Regions from separate parts of the Homo sapiens genome. Here region 1 is linked to region 2. Evidence: fine-mapped expression QTL. Tissue or cell type: tibial nerve. Region 2 holds a variant in brackets; the other region holds the start of a gene. All regions are shown on one strand. Distances are from middle to middle.

Region 1 (5,394 bases), 81 kb before region 2:
TCAAAAATACATAATATAAGAAAATGTTCTGTGACCAATAAATGTTCTTTGAAGACTAAAAATATCAAACTCTAACTAAAAGCCTAATATAGATTTCATCTGATAAAAAGAGTCAAAAGTAATCAGTTGTTCTCTTTCATTATGTGCCTTTGAACTACTACATTATTTTAATGTTAAAGAGTCTGTTCCTAATAGTTGCACAGTTATATGACTGCAACTTGTTTTATTTTGACTAACTCATTCTCTATGACAAGAATACTATATTCATATTATAGTACATATGTTGCATTATCAAAATATTGGCTATTGAATTTAGTACTTTATTATTTGGAAAAGATATGAAGACAGTGCTCTCTTATAAACACATTTTATTTGAAGTGACAGTTTCTGGACCCACTGGTCCAAGCAAGAACTTCATTGTTTCTGGCAAGGATCCCAGAGAAGATCTTCATAACTCAAAAACTTAAATATCACTTTTGTTTAGGATAAACCATCATAATACTGCCAAAACTGATAGAAATGCACATTACCAAAAATTAATTGTAGGAATAACAATGAATATAGTAGGTAAGAATCTATTTTCCAATTTTAAATAGACAATATTTAGAGGTTGGTTTTTACATAGAAGAGGACATTTTGCTGCACAAGAATTCTTGTCCTCTTCTATGTAAAAACTAATTTGTTTCATGTTTATTAAAGTAAAGAATTTAATGAGAACCCAAGAGCAGAGTAAATAATGCTCAGTCCTTGCTACTTTAAACAAATAAAAAAATACTGGATTAAGAAAATGTGGCACATATACACCATGGAATACTATGCAGCCATAAAAAATAATGAGTTCACGTCCTTTATAGGGACATGGATGAAGCTGGAACCCATCATTCTCAGCAAACTATCGCAAGGAAAAAAACCAAACACCAAATGTTCTCACTCATAGGTGGGAATTGAACAATGAGAACACATGGACACAGGAAGGGGAACATCACACACTGGGACCTGTTGTGGGGTGGGGGAAGTGGGGGGAGGGATAGCATTAGGAGATATACCTAATGTTAAATGATGAGTAAATGGGTGCAGCACACCAACATGGCACATGTATACATATGTAACTAATCTGCACGTTGTGCACATGTACCCTAAAACTTAAAGTATAATAAAAAAAAAACTATCAGGAAAAAAAAATACTAAAGAACAAATAAAACCAATGTACTGAAAGTCTTGAATTATAATGTTAACATAGATACTTCCTACTGCTATCACTTACCTTCTGTCAACCTCAAATTCATGTTGGTAAAATAGATTTAAATTTTGTTTGTTAAATTATTATGAAGCTAAAGGGAAACTTTGTATGCAGTGTACTGGTCTATAAGCCCTTTGAGAGCAGGGACCACGTCAGTTCATTATTTCATGCCTAGCCAAATAGTGCCTTCCACCTGGACATTATTCATTGAATATTGGTTGAATGAACAAGTAAATGGAGGAATGGATAAAATAATTAAATAGAAAGTAGAATTTAAATAATATTCTGATAAATCAGGAAAAATTGTTCATTTGTAGGAGAGGAAGGAAGATTCAAAACCCTGGGTTATTAAAATTAATTGTCCACTCTAATTGAATTCGCAGAATAACTTGACTTAAATTCACAGGTTAATTTCTCTCCAATTACAAATGCAATAATCTGCTATGGGCACAGTGCCAGCATGAACACTGGATCGCTGTGATCAGCCAGACTTAGCACTGTGTTATTTGACTTTATTTTCTTTCCCAACAGATAAGATTTATTTCTTCTCCCTGTCTAGAACTTATGTTTATGTCTGCACATCTCCATTTCCTTAAGTAACCAGTGACTTAAGGAGAATATCTCTATTTTGATCAATGCAAAATAAAATTTAATTAAAGCATGTTTAGTCCTAATTTCTGAGTAACAATTTCTTACCAATATTATAAGTTTAAAAACATTTGTAAATTAGCACAAGACATGCCTTCTAACATGTTTATTTTATTGCATTTAAACAGCTCTCTTTCTGACAAAATTCTGAAAGAAAAAATGTATAATGCTTATCTAATTCTCAAGATAATAAATTTGTGATATTTTTCCTCTTTATAATCAACATTTTTTCTCATCTTAGAAAAAAATAAAATCAATCACCAAAGGAAATAGGAATAATAATTATTAAAATATACAGAATACTACCATATAGAAACATAGATCAGGAAATGAACTAAGATCTATTTAGAATCTTAAAATTAAAGTATCATTTCCTGCCATGATTCTAGAAACTTTAAAAAATATATTTCTCTATTATCAAGTCTTGTAACTTTCATGGTCATATGGTTTTTAATTATTTCACAGCATGGCATGTTCTTAATTCTCAAGAGGCAAATAATCATGAGTTTATCTTGATTACTTTTTAAACGGCATTTATTTTGAAGAAATAAGTGAAAATAGCATATTAGTACAACATTTTATCTAAATAACATCTTGGGCATTTTCATAAACTCCAAAGACTCAAGATTTCAAGAAAAATGACATTTTACTTTTCCTCAACTATTTCTGATCATTTTCTGTAAATGTGACTCATAAAATTAATATTCATTTTCTCATTAGTGCCCTTAGTATAAAACGTTGTATTTTGGAAAATTTTAAGAGTGTAGTACAACAAGGTTTAACTTACCTTATAAGGAATTTGTTTTTGTAAACTCTTTTCAATACGACCTCACTTCTCTGGTCAAAAGCAATCCAGAGACTTCCCTCTCTTCTCTTCCTCTTCCCTGACTGCCAGTGGGTGGATGGTTTCCTCTCTGTCTGCGATAAGCACTGCAGAGGACTCTCGGAGTTTGTCCTCACTCCTGATGCCACACACCTTTTCTTGGCACTTTATCTCGTCCCAGGGGAAGATTCCTGCAGAAATTTCCTTCTCTGTAATCTCTTGACAGATGGCTCTGCTGGCAAGAACCTCAATCCTTAGGAGTGCATTAATAGGCTTTTATTCTCCCACACTGCCTTCTCACAGGTTTTATTTTTTAATTGCACATTAGTTGATACCTCATGTCCTAACAGGCCAGGGGATCATTGCACCCTTGTAATATTCCCAGCAAATCTGTTTTTCTGTTTTTTTAATTTCTATAAATTTGTGAAGCTAGTTTCTTTTTAATAGTTCATTAATTTCCTTCTTCTATTCTCAGAGGCAGTTGGGAAAAAAGGCTCAGTAATTTACTTTAAAACACAAACTGAATATTGACTTGTTCAAATACAAATAAAGTAATTTTTTATGGCTGAGAAAATTGTAAACCAGACAACCAAAATCTTTCAATTACCAGTTTTTTTGACATTACAAGTGTTCCTCTGATAAATGCTTTTGCTATGTTCTCTCTCTGTCTAGCCCCTGCTTTCTGTATCTCTCCCTCTTATTATTTTTAGGGAAATAAAATAGAAACATACTCTGAAATTAGAGGGCCAATTGTCATCTGGATGATGTTACTTAAGATGATAAAGAAAATACTCATCAAATTATCTTATCAATTTATTAATTTCATCTTAATCTTTAAATATGATGAAAATAGGGGTGATCCAAAAAAGAGACAGCAACAAAAATGCCTATAAACTTAGACAAGGAATTTCAGCCAAAATAAGGTAAAGTAAGGGGTGGCTGCAGCCATGGCTAACTGGAGCATGTGTGCCCATTTATAAAGGAAAATGTCTACTAGTCTCCAGCTAATCACTGTCTGGTGGAAATTCAAGTTCTGCATTGTAAGGCCTATCTGTTTTTCAAAAGGATCCTAATATCTGGATTTTTATATGAAATAATCTTATGCTTTTTAAATATTAGAGAACACTACAGGAGTTAATCCCAACACCTGTGGCCCAGCCTCAGCCTAAGCACTGCCACATAATGACCTCTGATCTAGAATAATATTCAAATAAAACAAACACCGTTGCTGAATCACTACCCTTCATTAATTGTGAGATCTAAGCTGTTTTCTCATAGGTGAACAGGATGGCAATAATGTAGACTAGTCAATTTTAAAAACCTATAATATCCCTTAATAAAGACCTTAGGGAAGGGTATCAACCAAAGGACGGGTAACTGATGTGGGCAAATTGTAGATCAAACGTGAATGCGAAGGGCCAGGTTTATTTAAAAATAATAATAACAAGTGATGTTATGAAGAGAGTGAGGCATTTTATCTTATCTGAATTTCTTACCCTTTACCTAGTAACAATCTTATATAGTAATTACTTTGTTCTAATTGCTAAATGCAGATTTTTAAAAATTCTCGTAATTCCATTAGTAGTAAAATGTTAGTCAACAATTTTCTAAACTAAATTTATTTATACACATACACACATTTTTATCTATCAGTACAATTTTACATGCCTATGCATTTGCATTATATATATATTTACCATTCTTTATAAAAATGATATACTGCATATATTATTTGATAGTCAATTTTTTAATTCAATATTAAATACATAATTAACTCTTTCCCATCAATAATCTTTCACAATGTGAATTTCAATGCCTACATGGTATCTCATTGTTTGGAGATAACATAATTTAACTGGCCAGTTCCCTATTACTAGGTAAATTTTCCCAATTTTTTATTCACAGTAAAGTATCTATAATTAACAACTGCTCATTGATCTTTGCGCACATCTATTATATCTTATCATATCAAAATATATCCCCATTGTTGTGCCAATTTACAGCTCTACAACTGTGATAAGCAAATTTGTTTCCCTGCATTTTCAACAAAATTGGACATAATCATTCTCTCTAATTATTTTAGGTGAAAAAATAGACTGTGTAATAATTTAAACTTTATAAAATAAGTATTGCTTTCATATATACCAGGTAAACTTTCACACATATGAGCTAGATAGTCTTTTTTTTTTTTGAGACAGAGTCTTGCTCACTGCTGCAACCTCCACCTCCTGAGCTCAAGCGATTCTCCTGCCTCAGCCTCCCAAGTAGCTGGGACTACAGACATCCACCACCACACCCAGCTAATTTTATGCATTTTTAGCAGAAACAGTGTTTCACCATGTTGTCTAGGCTGGTCTCAAACTCCTGACCTCACGTTACCCACCACCTCGGCCTCCCAAAGTGCTGGGATTCCAGGCGTGGGCCACTGCGCCTGGCCTGAATGGTAATTTTTCTTAATGTTTTTTTCTTGACTGACTGGCAGGACAGGTTTCTCTAGCAATGCCTCAGAGTCAGAAACTGTAACGGGAAGCAATGGGAACCATCCAAAGATGCCTGTGGCATGGCAGGCGAATACCTGGAAGCCTGCTAGCAGCTCTGGGCCTCTCCCTCGTTAGGTCCCTGATAAAAGGGGCTCCGATCAGACGCTTCATGCATCAGGATTGATCAAGATGGGATACAGGGG
Region 2 (5,394 bases):
TCTCACAGATGCCAAAATGCACTTCTAATTACTATTAATGAATTTGTTCCTTTGAGGTTCATACTGTCCTGTTCTTCGGGAATGATAGAAGTTGGAACCTCAATGGAAATGTGGCTACAGATGTAGTTTTGAGATGAACCAAATTAAGGTTGTTGAAATTTATTCAGTCACTTTCTGCTTCTCCCACCCAAAGTCTACATGTTTCTAGTAGCAAAATGGGATCAAATGAAATATTAAATAGCCTCCTATCCACGTAGAGACTTTGAGGAGTCTAATTTAAAACAAAAGTGGGAGAGAAATGTGCAATGATAATTTTCAGGCCACTTTCTTGGGTGAAAACCAGCTGCTTTTGGTTTTGGCCTCACTCAAAGATAAGAGACATGAAATCCATCTTCATGTGGCTTCTGAAATTAAGTGACAACTCACAGCTTTTCAGAGGCAACTGGATTTCTAGCTTGCATTTTTTGCACAGGAGTCAGCCATTGCTGAGGCATGCACATTGTTACTTCCTAGAAACAGATGCTGTATGATTGCAGCAGTTAACATTTCCTGAGAGCCTACTGTGTGCCAAGCTCTCTGCTAAGAGCTTTGCAGATATCAACTCATTTAATCTCACAATGACCAATAATGTAGGTATCACTGAAACCCCCATTGTAAGAAGAAGGAAGCTGAGGCTCTGAAAGGTAAGTAATCAAACGAATCACAGATAGTGGCAACAAGCAAAGCTGAGATTCGAACTCAGAGAGTCCAACCTCAGGGTCCTCACTTAACTCTCACACTGTTGCCTCCCTTCCACTGCACTGATAGTATCAGAAACTAAGAGAAATTTTAACTGGCTTAAGTAACATAACCGAATCTAAGGAAGTAAAATTTGAAAAGAGAGGTAGCAGGATGTAACAACCAAAGCAAAGGGTGGGGATAAGGAGGCTTAGAAACAGCCTGCACAGGGAGGTTAGTTGACAGACAGCTAAAATGAAGCACACCTAAACAAGGTCAGCCAAAAGAAATATTTCAAGATATTTGAAAAGCAAAAATCAAATGACACCATAAATCTGTGAACCCCGGGAAACACAGCATCAGGGAGATGCACCCAGCATGCTACCAAAGGAAATAGAATAGCACCAGGGACACCTATGCAGGAGATTATGCTAGTGGCTACAAGAGCTTCAGACTGTAGGAGGTAAAAAATCAAGGTACCCACTGGATTGACATTGATCCTAAGCACTCAAAACCTTTTTGAAGTTTTCTTTGGAACTGTTTTCAAAGTTCATGGTGGAAAGTCATCATCCCTTGAGAGTGGATTCAATACTAAGAAACAACAAAACTTGTAGCGATTGCAGTGAAAATTGTTTAAATGACTAAGCTGAATAACATAAACAAACAAACAAAAATGGAGTGGCTGTAATATAGTCACACTTATTTTCTTGAGTGCATAATTAACAGAGTATAAAGATAGGTCCCAAAATATTTTGAGCATCAGTTTTATTGTTGGGATAAGTGGCTTTCAAAAAAAAAAAAAAAACCAGGCACTGGAATTTTTATGTTCTGGTATACTTATTTAAATATCCATTTCTTACATTTTCATAATTCATGTACACATTTGATCCCAATCTGAAGTAATTTACTAAGTAAATCTTTAAATTATTTGTTTCAGTTTCTATAAAATTAAAATTGAATTGGACTTTATTTAGTGTACAAAATTGTGTTAGTTTGCTAGGGCTGTCTTAACAAAATACCACAGACCGGGTGTCTTAACAACAGAAATTTGTTTTTTCACAGTTCTAGAGGCTAGAAGTTCAAGATGAAGGTGTCAGCAGAGTTGGTTTCTTCTGAGTCCTCTCTCTGTGGCTTATGATGGCTGCCTTTTCACTGTGTCCCCACATGATCTTTTTCTCTGTGTGGCCACGCCTCTGGTGTCTCTTCTGAGAGTCCTAATCTCCTGTTATGAGATTAATCAGATTGAATAAAGACCCACTTAACAGCCTTATTTTAACTTAATAACCTCTTTACAAACTCTGTCTCCAAATACAGTCATTTTCTTGGGTACTGGGGTTTAGGGCTTCAACATATGAATTTGGGGTTAGGGAGAAGCATAAAATTCAGCCCATAATAACAGTGGTCACCAAATAAGGAGATCCATTCTGATTTAATTTTAGGCAGGTTTAGTTTACCCAGCAAGTGATTCGTGCCACACAGGCTTAGAATATTAAAGATACATAAATAAATAAAGATAAACTGAAATAAGACTGAAAGTCATTTTAATTAAACAAATAATCCCCTAGTATTATGCTTTCAAGACACTTGCATTATTTTCTTTCTCTTTGTTTACCACATTCTGGACAAAAGACAGACCCATTGGATAGATCCTTGAAATCGCTCAAATTCTTTTTGAATGCAATTTTTGAACATAATTTTTGTCATTGAGAAGCTATGGTGTTCTGGGCACTATGGATAGATCTTTTAAATACATTACTTAATTATCAAACCAGCTTTATGAGATAGGGAATATTATCCCCATTTTACTAATAAAAAACCTAAGGGTTAAAAATTTTAAATAATCTGCTCCAAATCACATGCTAGTAAATAATA[G/A]AGCCTAGATCCAAAAACAAGTCTGCTGGTAGCCAAGATCCCTGTTTTTACCAATAATGTAAAGTACATGAGGCTCCGGTGTCATCATTCAAATCTGGTGAAACTCAGTTCCATCAGATGAGATATTTCTATGACTGTGTAACAATATCAAGGTTATGGATGATATTACAAACATTCATTCGACATATATTTATTGATTAGCTAGGATGTGTTAAGCACTGTACTAGGCACTGAGGTTAAGATGATGAACAGGACACAACCTTTCAAGAGAAAATCTGGTTTGGAAGACAAACAATTCCAAGGCACAGCAATAAAACAGAGTAAGCCCTAGAGACTTTTATTCAATCAGTTGGCCTGCCTAAGGCATTATCTGATAAAAGTATAAGAAATCTTCTGGATTATAAAATACACTAACTACAACAGCAGTTCTTCCCATAGCACATGTGAATTTCATTTTAAAATAAAAAATAATTCAACAAATGGCAAGAAATCATGCTTGCATGTTCTAAATGCACAGTTATATCACATTCTATTCCAGTAAATTTCGACAAGCCTCAGCTGAATTGTTTCATTTAACTTTTACTATAACATTTTTACAAACCACACTTTCTGATCAATGATGCTTTGGCTATGGAGCTGAGTACATGGCAATACTTATCCTTCTGTACCTTGAAATCCAGCCCTCTATTTACCAAGCATAAAGGCAAATGCCAGTTAAACTACTTTTAGTTCCATCTTTCTGATGTTCAAGTGCAGGAACAATTATCTCCATCAATATTTAATGGCCTAATCCTATGCAGACAGTGCCACAAGTGTAGGCAATAGTCCCGTTAACATGCCGTTAATTTTCAAGCATACAGGCAGAAATGGACTATACAGTTACTGAGAATGCACAGCGGTACATTTCCCTAAGGTAAAATTCTTTCCACACCCTCTGGTCTACCTTCCTTGATAATAAGGGAATTAGAAACATTTCAGAGTTGTGTTCAGTGGGTTAAGCTTGTGCACTCTTTAAAATTCATGGAGAAAATGAAGCTTTCCCAGTTTTTCCAGTTTTTAAATAACAAGGTTTGTGACTCTCTAATTCAAGCTAAATATCTCATGATCCCACCTACCCACAGTTTTGTTTGGTTTGGTTTGGTCCTTTTCTGAGTTATTGCTTTAAATAGCCATTATTACAGAACACATGTCATTGTCCAGGTACTTGAAATCTAGATTGTGGATATCAATTAGAAATATTCCTATAAAATATGAGATATTGTTGCCAATGTAACAAAAGTCATAAGAAATTTTAATGAAATACACATAGTTTTTACAACTACAACATTAACAGGGAGAACTTCAGTAACCTAAATCATTTCATTAAGAAGGCCAGAGTGTGGACTGTGTGTGATTAGCTCTCTTTTCCTTCTGTTCTCTTGAAAAGACTGAAGGCTGGAGACAGATGAGGGGCTGGGGGGTGGGTGGGGGGTGGGTAGGGGCAGGAGGGGTACCACCATATAAAACCATCCTTTGAGAGAAAAGCAACTTAGAGCGAGTGTAGGCAGAGAAATCATGATCTTTGAATCTTGATTCAAAGAGCAAGAGTAACAGAAGAAACAAAAGATCCTTCTTAATCTGTTTATTCATAAGCTAAGTACGTTCCTGGGAGCTGTATTTGAGAATAAAGTCTGCATTATCTTCCTTATGATCTCAAGGTGACCTCAGAAATTATATAACCTCCTCTAAGTCTGATACAATTAAGTTGTAAACCTAATTCGTTAAAATTGTCTACTGAATAGAAAATTTCTGCAAATTTCCCACTTAAATATAATTTAATATTAATAAAACTGTTTTTAAGATACTTGCATTTTTTTCTTCCTTTGCTGTACTTCATAAGTCTTGAGATTTTCAGGAGTTAAATAAATATCAAATAACTAGTCAACATTAAAGATCAAAGCTTAAATACATTTTCCTAAATATCAAATTAGCCATTGTTGTCCAGTTGCAGAAAGAGCAATACAGTTTGAACAGTTTGGAAATATGGTTGACTTGGGTGAACACGGTAATAGACACTTTTTACAGATTTAAGGGAAAGGGACTTCATGTCTTTATACAATTTTCTGGTTCTTGTAAAGAAAAGTGCAGAATGTCATTGTAAGAATATTTCTTGCTCCTTTGCCAAATACAGTTCTTAAGTACTATGTTTATATAACCATCTGTCATGTTTACACAGCAGAACTCAAAGACAGAAATCTCTCATTTGTCAGAAGCATGGTCATGCCCATAAGCCTATCTATTATATAAATTATTTTGGAGTAGATTAGAATCTTTCACTATGTTCATTAAATTAAAAGTAGGGTTAGGCCTAATGCAAAATGGAAAAGCAGATGACTGTTTTTAAAACCCTGCCTCCTTCCTGCTGCTCTCCATTGGGACTGCTTATTGCCTGGTATTTTTCACCGTACACTTCATCTGGATGAGGTTCCTGCCCATGGCCTTTCCTTCATTCATTCGGCAAATATTTATGAACACTCACTCTGTGTAGCTAGGTATTGTTCAAGCCAGGTATGTGGGTGTGTCAATGAACCAAACAGAGATCCCTGGCCTCCAGAAGCTTACATTCTAAGATGAGAAACAGTAAATAACTATAATAAACAAGTAAATTGTATGAGATGTTAGAAGATAGTATGGCTATGAGGGAAAAAAATAAAGCATGGTAAAGAAGATGAGTTATGGGCAAGGGATGGGGAGTGGAGAAAGAGGATTGTGCTTTCAAACAGGATGGTCAAGATAGGCCTCACTGAGAAGGTGGCTTCTGAGTAA

Alleles and levels. Alleles are on the strand shown, and positions count from the first base shown. SD is a standard deviation of normalised expression in the study named.
In carriers of allele A in region 2, the expression in tibial nerve of the gene that starts at base 2,991 in region 1 tends to be higher than with G alone (moderate effect, 0.51 SD a copy in GTEx).

What was found. PIP is the estimated chance that this variant, and not a neighbour inherited with it, causes the effect. A credible set is the group of variants that fine-mapping cannot tell apart.
Region 1: it holds the start of LINC02058, and the variant in region 2 is the best candidate, but not a certain one, in a credible set for the expression of LINC02058 in tibial nerve (GTEx, PIP 0.87).

Annotation. Positions count from the first base shown.
Region 1 is chr5:92,936,796-92,942,189 of GRCh38, forward strand. LINC02058 (long intergenic non-protein coding RNA 2058) reads right to left here and starts at 2,991. Exons shown (of 3, transcript XR_001742811.3): 1 at 2,676-2,991.
Region 2 is chr5:93,018,198-93,023,591 of GRCh38, forward strand. No RefSeq gene overlaps it. Among named protein-coding and RNA genes, the nearest start is that of LINC02058, 81 kb to the left of the region's middle. The variant G/A (reference allele first, on the strand shown) is at 2,590.